2 separate regions of the Homo sapiens genome follow, and region 2 is linked to region 1. The links come from fine-mapping of genetic effects on plasma protein levels. Region 1 holds a variant in brackets. A gene starts in the other region. All regions are shown on their forward strands.

Region 1 (8,341 bases):
AATGCAATTTCCTATTCCCTTAGAACAGCTATGAGGTCAATAGGTGATAGAATTTTTCAGCTCCATTATAATCTTATGGGACCACCATCATACATATGGTCCTGTGTTGACTGAAACATTATTATGTAGTGCATGTCTATAACCAGAAAAGCTTTCCTTTCAGGCTACCTACTGGCCCCTTCTCCACATGTTTGATTATGGCTTTGATCCTCACATTTGAGATATTCTGCCTCCATTTTTACTGAAATGCAAAATAAACAGCTCAGATTATTCTATCTACCAGGTAAGACCGTTTGTGAAAAAAGCTGAAGACTTTTGAATCTGATAAACATCTTTACACTCTGAACTCTGAACGAGTAGGGACCATGTCTGCTTTTGTCCACATTATGTCACTACAGCCTAAAGCAACCTGGAACATTGAATATATTAAATAAATATTGAATATACTGAATAAATAGAATATGCTGAATATTCATATATGAATAGATGAATAACTATATAGATATAAATATTCATTATATAATTACATCTATAACATGTAATACATATTTATATATACATTATATAATATATAATTTATATTATGTTAATATATTACATAATATATTATATAATAGGCAAATATATAATATATATAATATATAATATAATAAATATATTATCATATTAATATAACATATATTATAAATATATATTTCCCAATTATATTATATGTAATACCATATATATTTGGCAATTATATAATATATAATATAAATATATGTATAATTATATGTAATTTATATTATGTTAATATATTATATATTATATTAGTTGGCAAATATATTATATATTATATATTTTATATATCATAGAATTGGCAATATATAATATTAAATATATTTATATTATTATATAATATATAATTATATATATATATATGGCACAGGCATAGTACAAAAGTGAGTGATTAACTCTTTTGGGGAAGTGGGTAATCAAGGTAGGAATACAGAAAAGATGACAATGAATCAGGGTTTTGAAAATGAGCAGAATCTGGGGTAAGGTCATTCCAGGATGGAAAATATCATGTTAAAAAGCATGAAGGTATGAACAATATGGAACTGAGAGCAGTTTTAATTTTTCATAAAGACAACATTTATTTTTCACCTTAACATTTATTTTTAATATGCCTTACTTAGGTTAAGAGAAAACAAAGATTTAAAAAGCCAAGTGTCCCTTTTATTATTATACTTTCTTTTCACATAACCTTTTCAGCCTAGATTCAGGTAACTTCCTGTCTCTCCCATTAAAGGAGAGGGGTCCTGCACATTACAACAGGCAAAAAAGGCTTTCAGGAAATAAAATGTTTTAATTTGATCTATTACATCTGTTCAATTTTCTTGAGTACCTTCGAGAGTGGGAAAAAGACAAAAGGAGAAAAAAATGGTATTTTAAACAAACAGACTATAATAACCTTAGTTAGGTTGGTAGTACACTATTTATGCTTTTTCTCTAAACAGGTACAAAGGAGGTTCAAAAAGAAGAGGCTGGAGAGGCATGTAGCCGGTAGCATCCGACTCATCAATTTCTTCCTTTATTTTTCTGATCGCATAAATTGATCTGGCTTTCACAACCTACCCAAAATATAACATTGAATTACTATCTATACAAATGAAGTAAAAATTTATTGTTTGCTTTGGCAGTAGTGACCTGGATTAATATTATTAGTGAGACAATATATATTGTTTATGAAACATTTTGCTTTTCTCCCTTTCACTTTGAACTAGAGATGAAGCTTGATTTTGTTTTTTCTTTAAGTTTCTAACCTTTGATTTATTTTTTTTTAGCATATAGAAGTGATAATAAATATTTTGTGGATTACTATATTTTAAACCGTGGTTACCTTGGGAAGATTTATTTAATCTCTGAAAAAGGAAAACCACCTAGTACATGTCTATGAGTGATTTAGACTAACTGACACTATTTAGTCTATAAAATACCCCTGACAGGTGTAGTGGGCCAGAAGGGAGGTGAACACTGAAGCATACTCAGTGCAATGAGGAATGAACAATATTCCCTATGGCTACATTTGTGCACCATGGGAAGTCTGTTTGCTTTCTGGGCAATGTTCAAAAGGGATTGGTTTATCATGAACTGCACGAAATGTTGGTATGTATATTTTCCAGAAAAAAAAAAAAGCTCACATTCATCAGAGATAATGAAGCCATAGGATTTGTGGCATTTTCTGATGTTACTTTCTTTTTTCTTAGTCTGCACAGTCTCTCTGAGAATCTCATCTACTTCCATGGCTTGAACTACTGCCTGTGTCCTGATCAAGCCAATATAGCCAAACCAGATCTCAATCTCAGCATCAGCTTTTGTTTTACATAACACAACTAGCTACAAACGTGGATTTTCTACAGCAACCTAACTTTTCTTTTTCCAGGATTTTCACTGTGGTTATATCATCCATTTACATCATCTATTTATTATCATACCCACTTATTATTATCATCTACTTACTGTATAGTGGAGAATATGTGATATAGTTAGGAATATGCCGGCAAAGCACAGTCACGCAATCTGAGCCCAGAACTGCTTTTCTAGACCGCTCTCATCTATAAGACCCATATCTGACTGCACAAAAACTCCTGATTTCCTTTGATCCATTCCTTCCATTCTATTCCAATTTTTGGACTTCGGCTTATTTTTATCTACTCCAGCCAGGCATCTTGGGTAACAGCAATGGTGCAGACAATTAAGAGGAAAATCCAAGGGCATTAAGAGAGAGGACAAATTAATAGCATCTAAAACACAGCATTTTAACAAAGAATCGTAGGGAAAAAGTCAAACAGTAGAAGATACCTTTTTTCAGGAAAAAAAAAAAAAAACACCACACACATAAACTTGAAAAACATGATATTCAGTGGGTGAGTAGAGGAAGAAGACTCAGCACAAAAGACAAGGAAGAACTTTTTGACGCTGCAAGAGAAAAACAAGAAGCAGTCAGGGTCATGGAAAAGAACAAAGAAGTTCGTGGCCTGCAAGAAATCCATAACCTGCCACATAGAATTTAAGTTGTTTTTCCTGTGTGGTAGAAGCAGAAATAAAACCTTGCAAGATTGGCAGTAATAAATGTATAAAAATGAAAGTCCCTGAGTGCATAAATGAAAGTTGTTCATGCTCACGGTTTTTTGTTGAGAAGAGAGATACTGATGATTGCACTGAGATAGCACATCCAGGGGAGTTTTATTTATTTCTGGGTATTCCTCCTCATCTCCCCAACGTCTCAACAGCAGAGTGAGCCAGGGTCCAGTTTCTGTTCTGTTTTCTCTCCTATTTTCACTCCCTTGGTGATCTCACTAGCCTCATTGCTTTAAATATAATCTAGAAGGCTGATGACTCTTAAGTCTTTATCTCTTGCCCATAGCTCGTCTCTCAACTACAAACCCATATATGCACTGCCTAACAACACCCCTGCTTAGAATTCTAATATGGTGCAAACCTAGAGGTCTTCTTTTCCTCGCCTTTTCTCATCCACTACATCCAATCTCTCATCCAACCCTGTTGCTTTGTTTTCAAACGCTATGTAGAAACTGAGGGCTTCTTGTCACTTCCTTGCTAGCATCCTGTCCAAGCCCCATCATCCCTTTCACCGTGACATTTCTTTTTTTTTTTTTTGAGACAAGGTCTTGCTCTCTTGCTCAGGCTGGAGTGCAGCCGTGTGATCACATCACTGCAACCTTGACCTCCTGGGTTCAAGTGATTCTTCCACCTCAGCCTCCTGAGTAGCTGGGTCTACGGGTGCATGCCACCATGCCCATCTAGAGATGCAGTCTTACTATGTTGCCCAGGCTGATCTCAAACTCTTTAGCCTCAAGCAATCTACCCACCTCAGCCTCCCAAATTTTTGGCATTACACACATGAGCTATTGAGCATGGCCTCACCTTGTTGATTTTAATAGCTCCCTGACTTTCACGCTTACATTCTTGAATTAATTCTCCACACACTTCCCAGAAGAATCCTCTTAAAAAGTAAGGCAGATTGAGTCACTCCCATGCTCAAAGCCCCTGAATGCCTTCTCGTCTCACTCAGGCCGTCATTAAAGTCTGACTCAAAAAAGCAGACCACCTGTAATTCCTGCACTTTGGGAGGCTGAGGCGGGTGGATCACCTGAGGTCAGGAGTTCGAGACCATCCTGGCCCAATGATGAAACCCTGTCTCTACTAAAAATACAAAAAATTAGCTGAGTGTGGTGGCGGGTACCTCTAATCCCAGCTACTCAGAAGGCTGAGACAGGAGAATTGCTTGAACCTGGGAAACAGAGGTAGCAGTGAGCCAAGATCAGGCCACTGCACTCTAGCCTGGGCAACAAGAATAAAACTCTGTCTCCAAAAAAAAAAAAAAAAAAAAAAAAAGGAAAGAAAGAAAAAGCAAGCAAGCAAGCAAGCTGA[C/T]TGTTCCTGAACATCCATTTTCAACCTACAACCCCTTGGGGCTTTGTCTTCCCCACCCTGGCTTCATTTTCTTTCCCCCAAAAACATATATTCCTTATTTGTCTTGTCTATCATCTGTCTTCTCTCATCCAAGCCAGATCCATGATGTGGACTTTTGATCTCTTTGGTTCAGGGATCAGAGAGTTCCTGAAGGTGCTCATTACATACATAATGCCGTATTTAAAATTACATAAATAAATGAAAGGCAAGATATTTTTCAAGATGACTGGATTTTATATCTTAGGTTATGCCTCAAGAAAACTTTGTGGTTCACTAAAGTAGGGATTTTAAAAATTCTTCTGTTACATATTGGAAAATAAAATATTTCTCTCTGCACTGCACGTAACTAGCAAACTGAAACAAAAAATATTACCCTCAGTGAACCCACTTTGCTTCAAAAGCATTTATTATTAAAATTACCAGATTATTTCAGCTGCTTACTCTGGTTATAATCATTGTAATTTTTTAGTAACGTGAACATACATACTTGCATGAGCCTTCATTAGCAGGCAGTGAACAACTCACACTGTTCAAGTGTGCCTTTTAATATCAGTTCCACAGTTAGGACAAAAAGTAGCTTCACATAAAGTTACTCTTCCTATTAAATGTCAGTGTGCTGATAAACGATTGTAAAATCCTTGGAGTTTGTGTAATCTATTAAAAGCACGTGCTCATGAGAAGTGAAACACGTTTCTGTAATATCAGCATTTTATCAAGTGGATGAAAAGTTTACAGGAAATTCATAATGAAAGAATTTCAAGGTTAATTTGTTGGGAACCATATACCTTACTTTTTTGTTTTTATTATAAAACATTTTAATAATATTATAGATATGTTAGGATGAAATTTCTGTCATCTCATCACCCTAATAAAGGAAAAAAACCCTTAATTTTTTAAATGAAACTCGAGTCTTTGGATGTATGTATACCTGTAACATAGTTCATATCATCATGCACGTATCATTTGGTATTACGCGTTTTCCTTAAAATCACCTCATTATTTTAATATTTCAAACGAATTTTTCAAACTTGAAATTTTTTTTATTATTCTTTAGGTTCTGGGATACACGTGCAGAACGTGCAGGTTTGCTACATTGGTATACATATGCCATGGTGGTTTGCTGCACCCATCAGCCCATCATCTAGGTTTTAAGTCCCACATGCATTAGGAGTTTGTCCTAATGCTATGCCTCCCCTTGCCTCCCACCTACTGACAGGCCCCGGTGTGTGATGCTCCCCTCCCTGTGTCCACGTGCTCTCACTGTTCAACTGTCACTTATGAGTGAGAACATGCAGTGTTTCTTTTTCTGTTCCTCTGTTAGTTTGCTGAGAATGATGGTTTCCAGCTTCATCCATGTCCCTGCAAAGGACATCAACTCATCTTTTTTATGGCTGCATAGTAGTCCATGGTGTATATATGCCACATTTTCTTTACCCAGTCTATCACTGAGGGACATTTGGGTTGGTTCCAAGTGTTTGCTACCTAATAATTCAACACACATACATATATATATATATATATATATATATATATAAAACAACATATATATATGTGTTGAATTATTATGTAGCAAAGACTTGCTTATATATATAAAACCTTATTTTACATATATTTCATATATACGCAAAACCTTATTTTACATATATTTCATATATACGCAAAACCTTATTTTACATATATTTCATATATACGTAAAACCTTATTTTACATATATTTCATATATACGTAAAACCTTATTTTATATATATTTCATATATGTAAAATCTTATTTTATATATATTTAGATATAATCTTATTTTATTTATATTTCAAATATATAAAATCTTATTTACATTTCATATATATATAAAATCTTATTTACATTTCATATATATATAAAATCTTATTTTATATATTTTTATATATATTTTATATATATAAAATCTTATTTTATATATATTTTATATATATTTTATATATATAAAATCATATTTTATATATATAAAATCTTATTTTATATATATTTTATATATTTTATATATAAAATCTTATTTTATATATATTTTTATATATAAAAAATCATATTTTATATATATTTTATATATTTTATATATATGAAATCTTATTTTATATATATTTTATATATATTTTATATATATATAAAATCTTATTTTATATATATTTTATATATATATAAAATCTTATTTTATATATATTTTATATATATATAAAATCTTATTTTATATATATTTTATATATATATAAAATCTTATTTTATATATATTTTATATATATATAAAATCTTATTTTATATATATTTTATATATATATAAAATCTTATTTATACAGCCATTTTTCTAAATAAAAAATACAGCCATTTTTCTAAAATATAATTTTTTCTTTTAAACTTTTTTTCCTTTTCCCAGGGGGCAATGCTTCACTGATATAAATAATGATGTTATAAATATTTCCTTTTTTTTTTTTTTTTTGAGATTGAGTCTTGCTTTGTCACCCAGGCTGGAGTGTAATGGTGTGATCTCAGCTGACTGAAACCTCTGCCTCCTGGGTTCACGTGATTCTCCTGCCTCAGCTTCCCGAGTAGCGGGATTATAGGCGTTTGCCACCATGCCCAGCTCATTTTTGTATTTTTCACCGCGTTCATCCAGCTGGTCTCAAACTCCTGACCTCAGGTGATCCACCCTCCTTGGCCTCCCAAAGTGCTGGGATTACAGATGTGAGCCACTGCCCCGGCCATTATTTTCATAATTTAGCTTTCTTCTTTTAAAATGTTTCTTTAGGATAATTCATCATATGTGAAACTAAAAAGTGAAAGGAAAACTATTTTGAACTTCTTGGGCTCTACTGTCTTAGTGATCTTTAAAAAGATAACATAAATTTATAAATATTCCAGACTTATATGTGAATATGGCAGTTTCAAGCAAAATTCACTACCATTGAATAATAAAGCTTATTTTAGAATCATTTAGATTTTGATAAGAGTTAAATAATACCTAAAAGTGGTTTTCATTTTTATTTTTTATTATTAATGTAAGAGAGAGATTTCACTGTAATTGTCTGTCATACATTGTTCTTCTTGGGTTATTATCTATTCATATTCACTGCTTATACATCCCCACAGGTTTCTTTTACCTAAGCATGTGAATCAGCTCTTTATGTTTAATACATATTTACCATCTGTCTTTTCATACTTGACATGCATTCGTTTTCCTAAGATTTTTCCCTATTTAGTTTTTTTATCATATTCTTTCTTTTTTCTTTCTTTCTTTTTGTTTTTGAGATGGAGTTTCGCTCTTGTTGCCCAGGCTGGAGTGCAATGGCGTGATCTTGGCTCACCACAACCTCCGCCTCCTGGGTTCATGTGATTCTCCTGCCTCAGACTCCGGAGTAACTGGGATTACAAGCATGCACCACCACGCCCGGCTAATTTTGTATTTTCAGTAGAGACAGGGTTTCTCCATGTTGGTCAGGCTGGTCTTGAACTCCCGACCTCAGGTAATCCACCTGCCTTGGCCTCCCAAAGTGCTGGGATTACAGGCGTGAGCCACCGTGCCCGGCCCATCATATTCTTAAGGCCAACTTTATCTTCAACATTTGGAATAAATAATAAGCTTGTGATCCTCCTTATTATATAAAATAATAACTTTGATTTTTGTAACAGCAGTTGAATGTGTATATAAAATGAAAATTAAATTAAGATTATTTGTGAAACTAACAGCTTTATGCTTAAGGAACCCGTCTGTAAGACAGATTTTAGTAAGAAATGGAAATATTTATATTGTGCCTGATGTCACTGATATTCATCCTTGGTAGCAAAGAAGAAAGAGCATCAACTTTTGAATCTGAAATCTAGATTTGAGTATTGACTGTG
Region 2 (8,341 bases), not on the chromosome of region 1:
GGGGGCAGCAGGCCTAGGGACCCCTGGGAGCACAGGCAGAATGTTTCCAGGGCAGATAATGGGATTCCCCCGCCCCACATGTCCTTCTGGGACTCAGTCCACCAACACTCCAGCCCCTACAGGAGCTGACAGAGCCGGGCAGGAGCTGGGTGCCTGAATCCAGTCGGGGGTACATCTGGCTTCCATGGGGCCCCCAGGATGAGCATGAGCTTCCAGGGGCTCACAGTGTAAAGAATGTGAGGAAAAGCAGCCAGGACCCTCTGGAAGACTGACCTGCGTCCAAGGCCACTGACCTCACAACGGCCCCTGTGACTGCTGGTTTGATCAGCCCCTCTGGTTCCCTCTGGACGGAATGGAGGATTCCCTAGTGTCCTCTCTATAACCTGCATCTCACCTGAACCCAGGTGAGCCCCCGGGAACCTCCAAGTCATCATCACTGGGGATACCTGGTGCTTCAAGCAGGAGAGAAGATCTGGCTAACCGCTGGGCCCCGGGCCCCAGGCAGAATATCTCCTTGAAGCTCTGAGCAGCCCCAGGGTGCACCAGCCTTCCACACTTCTGCTTTTGGTATTTCCCAGGGGCTCAGCTCACCTTGGGTTCCTGCAACCAGCAGCCACACCCAGAAGAGCCTCGGAGGGGTCATGGCCGTGCCTGGATGCCCAGATCCTGCAGCAGACAGAAGCGGAGGGGTGAGGCACGGGAGCCAGATGGCCCGAGGCCCCAGGGACTGGCCTGCCCATTCACCCTTCAGCCCAACCTGGGCTGTGTGGCAGGCGGGGTCCCTCTCTTGCAGAGCCCACTATGATCCCAGTAAGTGTGACGTGTGCTGTGGATGCCCCCGCGGGGGCCCCTCACCTGGTCTGCAGTGTGGTCCTGGAAGGATGTGTAACACTTGGCTAGATGAAGCGTGGGCTGGGGGCACCCCCTGGCAGTAAGGGCAGCAAGAATTGGTGACTAGAGGCAAGTGAGCTCATCTCAAAAAACCAGGCCCCGGGCAAGGCTGCCACACGGGCATGGGCGGGGAGATGGAGGAGGCCACAGGCGTGGGCCCAGGTCGGGAGGCCGGGTGAGCCTGGTTAAGATCTCGGCCTTAAGCTTCAGGCAACAGACCCCTGCAGGGACTGTCCCAGAGGGTCTCAGCAGGCAGAGACGAGGCTGCAGCCTGGAGAGTGGATGGGAGGGGACTCGTCAGGAGAGGGCACAGAATCCGGGCGAGGGGTGACAGAGATAAGTGGCAGGGAGATATATCGGGGCTCCGTGGTGTTCCGATGGGGAAGATAGATGAAAAGGGTCAGGGCTGCAGCCCAGGGTGGGCCAGGCTGGGGGAAGAACAGGGAGGAAATGCTGAAGTATCCCCAAGACACTGACACTCAGGCCAGGACTGGGGAGGTCCGGGTCTCCACCTTCTGGCCTGGTGTTCTTGCCTCCGTGTAATTTCCACGCTTTTGTCTTCGTCTGCCTCCCTCCCCCACACCCTGCCAATGGAGAGACAGTTATGGTTTCTCTGGCTCGGTAAGAATCCTGTGATACCTGACACTGTCCCCTCAGTTCAGCAAGCCTGGGGCAGGCCTCTGGGTGGCACTGCTGTGGGCACCGGCTGGGAGTCTGGGCCTGGTGACCTTGAGGCTGCTTGGAGGGGGCCTGGTGGACGGCTGCAATGGCATCCCCAGAGCTTGTCGGAAATGCAGTCATGGCTGGCCTTGCCCTAGCCCCTCTGCATGGGAGTCTGCATGAACAAGCGCCCTGGGAGCTGGGTGCACTGGCTGGTGAGCAGCTTTGCTCTGGGACTCGTGCTCGCTGGCACTGTGCAGCCACCCCTTGTCGGGGCTCCCCGGGCACCACTGGAGGCCTTACCGTGACCCTGAGAACCACCTTAGTTACACCTCACCTTACAAGTGAATGAGCTGACACCCAGAGAGGCAAATGGGCTCCACATCCACAGTCAGTGAGCCACAGGCAGGGGGTCTGCTCGGGGGAGCCCACCTCTCCTCCCTGTGTCAATGTCAGTAGATGGCTAAAGGGGCCAGGGTGTGACCGCCTGTCCTGTGTGCTGGGGACTGTGCTGGTTTTAGCACTGAAGTTTCCCTGTGTCCTGGGAAACCCCTCAGTCCCAGGCACGCCGGTATGGGTGGACGCCCTCTCCACTTCTGCCCCCAGCCACTTCACTCTGCTGCAGCCACTAGGTTTGTCCGTCCTGGGAGAGTAACTCAGGGCCTTGGAAAAATGGCCAACTGGCCAGGCGCGATGGCTCACGCCTGTAATCCCAGAACTTTGGGAGGCTGGGGCAGGTGGATCACTTGAGGTCAGGAGTTCAAGACCAGCCTGGCCAACATGGTGAAACCCCGGCTCTACTAAAAATACAAAATAATAATAATAATAAGCTGGGCATGGTGGTGTGCACCTGTAGTCCCAGCTACTCAGGAGGCTGAGGCAACAGAATTGCTTGAATCCGGCAGGCAGAGATTGTAGTGAGCCGCTGCACTCCAGCCTGGGTGACAGAGCAAGACTCTGTCTCAAAAAAAAAAGGGGGGGGGGCAACGAAGCACCTGGCAGGTGGCGTCGCTGCCCTTTGTGTGGCAGCGGCTATTTTTGCCTGATTCCTTCATACAGTTGAGACCCGGCTGCCTGTGTTGGCCCCTTCGTGCAAATCAGAAAAAAAGGTGCTCTTCCTTGGAGTGGGTGCAGGCCTAGGCCAAATGCACAGGTCTGAGAGAGGGCCAAGCTGAATTCTAACCCACTTGCCCTTTGGCTGGTATCCTTGTGCAGTGAGTAATCTGCCCAACTGTACACAGAGGCCCTGTGGGCCTGGGAGCAGCAATGATTGTTGCTGGACTCAGGAGCCCTGGATCCCCAGCTCCAGGCCTATGTGCAAACAGGGAGGCATGACCCCCACTTGCCTGTGTAGAGAGAGGGGTGCCCTGGCCGGGCGCGGTGGCTCACACCTGTAATCCCTACACTTTGGGAGGCCGAGGCGGGTGGATCACCAGAGGTCAGGAGTTTGAGACCAGCCTGGCCAAGATGGCGAAACCCTGTCTCTACTAAAAATACAAAAATTAGCTGGGCGTGGTGGCACGCGCCTGTAATCCCAGCTACTTGGGAGGCCGAGGCAGGAGAATCGTTTGAACCCAGGAGGCAGAGGCTGCAGTGAGCGGACATTGCATCACTGTACTCCAGCCTGGGTGACAGAGTGAGACCCTGTCTCAAAAAAAATAAAAATAAAAAAGAGAGAGAGACTGAGAGGGGTGCCCACCTGAGAGCTAGAGGCAGGAGCTTACCTGGCTGCGGTAGCTGCAACGGCCGTGTGGAGCCTCCTCGCTTCCAGCCACAGGATCCCTCTGCAGACTGGTCCTTTGACCCAGAAGCCTCTCCCAGTATGGAGCGTGGTCAGGCTGATCCCAGGAAATGCTTCAGAAAAGAGTCTACTTTCGATTTCCAGAAACCACCTGACATAGATGTCTTCCGGGATTGGCTGCTGCTGATACTCCCCAGGGCCCCTCTCTTTTGTCTCAGCTCTGCCTGTGGCTATCAGTGCCAGGCTGGCAGAGGCCCAAGGTGGGAGTCTGGCTGGAGCAAGGCCTGCAAGAGGACTAACAGCCACACTCAGTTGGAAAGGCCGCCAGGCTGGTCAGGGGCTGGCGTTTGGTGGACGGGAGGGGAAGAAGCAGAGGCTCTGGGCCCAGACAGTCTGCACCTGGTGGTGTGGCTGTGGACTCTGACAGAGCGCTCCGAGTCTTTTCCTGGGTCTAGCACGTTGCTGGCTGGGTGAACACCACACAGGGGGCTGCTTATGTGCAAATCCACCCTCTCTGTGCTCTTGGCATGCTGACCACACAGAGGGCCTGTGCCCCACAAGGTTGCATGGCACTGTCCCCTGTCCCCAGGGGAGGGAGGCACTGAGAACCAGGTATGCAGCTGGCCAGTGGAGGAGCTGGACCCTGCTCCAACACCTGACCCCAGAGCCTGTGCTCGCCACTGCTGGACCTGTGGCCACTCTCCTACTGTCTCCCCCTCAGCGGGGCGGGGGACAGAGCCTCTCTGGGTGACATAATGGCTCTGTCCAGCTCATACCCATTCCCTTTCCTCCCACTGAAAGCCGGCACCTCAACTGTCCCTTGGGGAGCACCCCCTCCCATTCCCGGCTGTGTGGTTCCCAGAGGGCCCCCAGCTCTTGGCCTTCAACCACCCAAGGCCTGGCTGTCTGAGCCCTGCGGGGGCCCCGGGCCACACTGCTGGTTTCAGGGTGGGGCTGTGAGCCCAGCCAGCCGGTGAGAGCCAGCTTCTGACTGAGAGGATGTGGGCCCAGGCTGCTGGGGCCGGTGGGGCAGAGCAGAGGGAAGCAGGCATCCTCCGGCCTGAGCTCCTGGGTCCAGCTGGCCTAATCCATGGTCAAGGCTGGGCTTCACCGCTCAGTGAGGCAATCAGCAGCCGCTCTTGTTTCTGTCACTTGCACCCCATGGTTCTGGATGAGCCTTGGGATGTGCCCAGGCCTCTGACCAGTGGTTCTCAGCCTGGGCTGGACAGAAGAATCATCAGGGAGTTTTACAAACTCCTAATGCCTAGACCCAGGAAGTCACCATCTCTGGGAGTAGGGGACAGGCAGGGGCATTTAAAAGCCCCCAGGCAGTCCCACTGGGTGGAAGGCCCTGGTTCCCTGGCAGCTTAGAGTCCGAGACAGCCAGCCCAGAGGTCAGACATTCAATGACTATTTCCTTCAAGGTGTGAGGTTTTAGGCAGCTGCACGGTTTGCCTAATCCCCTCCAGAGGAACTGTGAAGATCCAGGGGCAGGTGCAGCTGGAAATAGAACTGGCTGTGGGGAGTTTAAAAAAATCTCATCTGGATTAAGGGCCTGAGTGCACAGAAACCCCAGCATCATCCCTTCTCAGCAGTGCTAATGACTTCTGCCCAAGTGGCCAGGGAAGGACAGGAGTGCAGAGGACGGGAGGGCATCTCTGGGAAGTGCTGGGAAAGGTTTTAAAACTCAGGTGCCGAATCTTTAGCCCCAGAGTCCGGGAAAGTCCTAAGCCATCCAGGCAGGTAAAATGGAAAACCCAGAGGCCTCCTCGTGGAATCGGAGCACCAACATCTGCTCCCCTGGGGCTCGCAAGGCCTTTCCGGTGTGCGATGACCATGGGGTGGAGGGAAGCGCTGACAGGGGACAGGCAGGGGAAGGGGCAGCGGCTCGGCTCTGAGAAGACAGCTGGGTGAAAGCCTCAGATTCGTGTGGACAGAACTGCTGTCATCAGGAAGCCGCTCCCAAGACATGGTAGGGAAAGTGCGGGGCATTTCAGAGATGAGAATGGTTAACTGGCCTGTAAGGTCATCTTTTGTGCCTCTACCCCAAACCTCTCCGCAAATTGAGGAACGCTCCCTATAATAGCTAATATGGATTTCGCCAGGCATTACTATAAGCCTTGCCACAAATGAATGCATTTAATACTTCCAGCCATGATGGGAAGCAGCTGCTCTTATATTCCCTGTTACAGATGAGAAAACAGAGGCTCAGTGAGGCGACGTAATCGGCTAAAGTTGTGCAGCTGGTAGGGGAAGAACTGGGGTTTCAAACCCATCCTTTCCTTCTTTTTAAAAATTGGCTTTCTTGGCATATAATTTACGTGCAAAGTTTTGGCAAATGTGTAGCGATGGTATCATGACAACAATCATTACCTAGGGCGTTTCAATCACCCCTAAGAATTCTCTTATGCCCCTCTGCAGCCACCCCTCCCCCCAGCCCCTTCCCAGCAACCACCTCTCAGCTTCTGCCACTGCTGGTTGCCTTTCCTAGAATTCCCTCTATTTTGTCTTCTTTTTTAAGACACAGTCTCCCTCCATTGCCCAGGCTGGAGTGCAGTGGAACAATCTCGGCTCACTGCAATCTCTGCCTCTCAGGTCCAAGTGATTCTCCTGCCTCGGCCTCCCGAGTAGCTGGGATTACAGGTGCGCCCACCACCACGCCCAGCTAATTTTTGTATTTTTAGTAGAGAAGGGGTTTCTCCACATTGGCCAGGCTGGCCTCGAACCCCTGAACTCAGGTGATCCGCCTGCCTCTGCCTCCCAAAGTGCTGGGATTACAGGCATGAGGCACCACTCCTGGACCCTAGAATTCCCTCTAAATGGAATCATACAGTATTTAATATTTTGCATGTGGCTTCTTTTACTTACCACAGTGCTTCTGAGATCCATCCATGCTATCTCAACAATCAGTAACTGGCTCCTGGTTTTGCTGGGTGGCGGCCCACTGTATGGACAGAACACCACTGTTAATACATGTTTGCACTGATGGACATTTGGGTCATTCCATCTTCCACTATTATGCATAAAGCTGCTGGAAACATTTGGATACAAGTCTTTGTGTGAAAATAAGTATTTATTTTGTGTAAATACCTAGGAGCAGGATTACTGGGTCATATGGTAGATATATGTTTACCTTTTTAAGAAACTACCCAGCACTTCAGGAGGCTGAGGTGGGTAGATCACGAGGTCAGGAGTTCAAGACCAGCCTGGTCAAGATGGTGAAACCCCGTGTCTACAAAAAAATACAAAAATTAGCCAAACATGGTGGTAGGCGCCTGTAATCCCAGCTATTCGGGAGGCTGAGGCAGGAGAATCGCTTGAACCCAGGAGGCAGAGGTTGCAGTGAGCCGAGATCACACCACGGTACTCCAGCCTGGGCAACAGAGCGAGATGCCGTCTCAAAAAAAAAAAAAAGAAAAGAAACTGTTTTCCAAAGTTGCTGAAACATTTTGCATTCTTGCTAGTAATTTCTTCATGTTCCAGTGGTTTAAATCGTCACCAATACTTGGTATTGTCAGTCTTTAAATTTCATCCATTCTGGTGGGCATGTAGTGAAGTTTCATTGTGGTTATAATGACGAATGATAGGCCGGGTGCTGTGGCTCACGCCTGTAATCCCAGCACTTTGGGAAGCTGAGGTGGGCAGATCACCTGAGGTCAGGAGTTTGAGACTAGCCTGATCAACATGGAGAAACCCCATCTCAACTAAAAAATACAAAAAAATTAGCCGGGCGTGGTGGCGCATGCCTGTAATCCCAGCTACTTGGCAGGCTGAGGCAGGAGAATCACTAGAACCTGGAAGGCAGAGGTTGCAGTGAGCCGAGATCGTGCCATTGCACTCCAGCCTGGGCAACAAGAGTGAAACTCCGTCTCAAAAAAACAGAAAAAAAAAAAAAAGACGAATGATGTTGAGCATCTTTATGCTTCTCTGTCATTCACACATCCTCTTTGGCAAAGCGTCTGTTCAAATCTTATGCACGTTTGAAAACTGGCTTGTTTGTTGTGTAAGTTCTTTATATATATTCTGTTCCTGTAGCAGATATATGATTTGCACTTTTATTTTTAATGAAAAGCTTGCTTTTCATTATCTTTTTTTTTTTTTCTTTTTTTTGAGACAGAGTCTCGTTCTGTCGCCCAGGCTGGAGTGCAGTGGTGCGATCTCGGCTCATTGCAAGCTCCGCCTCCCGGGTTCAAGCCATTCTCTTGCCTCAGCCTCCCGAGTAGCTGGGACTACAGGCGCCCGCCACCATGCCGGCTAATTTTTTGTATTTTTTTAAGTAGAGACGGGGTTTCACCATGTTGGCCAGGATGTTCTCGATCTCTTGACCTCGTGATCCACCCACCTCCGCCCCACAAAGTGCTGGGATTATAGGCGTGAGCCACCACGCCTGGTGAGCAGAGGGTGACTGAATAGAATGGGAGGCAGGATGGCCCTAATCAGTCCCAGCTTGACTTTTCCCTTTAGCTGGTGATTTTGGGGCCCAAGATATTTTCCTTTCACAACTCTGTTCTCTGTGGGAACAAATGACTTCAACTTTAAGGCAGGAGAATGGTGTGCACCCGGCAGGCAGAGGTTGCAGTGAGCCGAGATTGCGCCACTGCACTCCAGCCAGGGCGACAGAGAGAGACTCCGTCAAAAGAAAAAAAAAAGAATGTATCCATTTGTCTCTCATCTACCTGTGACCTGGAAGCCCCCTCCCCACTTGGAGTTGTCCTGCCTTTCCAGACTGAACCAATGTTCATTTTACATGTGTTGATTGATGTCTTATATCTCCCTAAAATGTATAAAACCAAGCTGTGCCCTGACCACCTTGGGCACACACTGCCAGGCCCTCCTGAGGCTGTGTCAGGGGCGCCCACGTCCTCAACCTTGGCAAAATAAACTCTAAATTAACTGAGCCCGGCTGGGCGCGGTGGCTCACGCCTGTAATCCCAGCACTTTGGGAGGGTGAGGAGGGCAGATCACTTGAGGTCAGGAGTTCAAGACCCGCCTGGCCAACATGGTGAAACCCCATCAATACCGAAAATATAAAAAATGAGCTGGGTGTGG

Alleles and levels. Alleles are on the strand shown, and positions count from the first base shown. The strength of an association depends on the size of the effect and on how common the allele is.
For the plasma level of the protein whose gene starts at base 3,375 in region 2, T is the high allele of the variant in region 1 and C is the other (weak association).

What was found. PIP is the posterior inclusion probability: the model's chance that the variant is causal. The UK Biobank Pharma Proteomics Project read protein levels with antibody pairs (Olink). The fine-mapping took linkage between variants from a reference panel, not from the people measured, so its PIPs are less certain.
Region 2: it holds the start of LGALS3BP, and the variant in region 1 is fine-mapped to the plasma level of the LGALS3BP protein (UK Biobank, PIP above 0.99).

The regions. Positions count from the first base shown.
Region 1 is chr8:16,182,992-16,191,332 of GRCh38, forward strand. The region is part of intron 1 of MSR1 (macrophage scavenger receptor 1); the gene reads right to left. Among named protein-coding and RNA genes, the nearest start is that of MSR1, 5.5 kb to the right of the region's middle. The variant C/T (reference allele first, on the strand shown) is at 4,435.
Region 2 is chr17:78,976,549-78,984,889 of GRCh38, forward strand. It overlaps LGALS3BP (galectin 3 binding protein), which reads right to left and starts at 3,375. Exons shown (of 6, transcript NM_005567.4): 1 at 3,276-3,375; 2 at 592-666. The coding sequence starts at 643. RefSeq lists enhancers at 1-311, 3,409-4,401.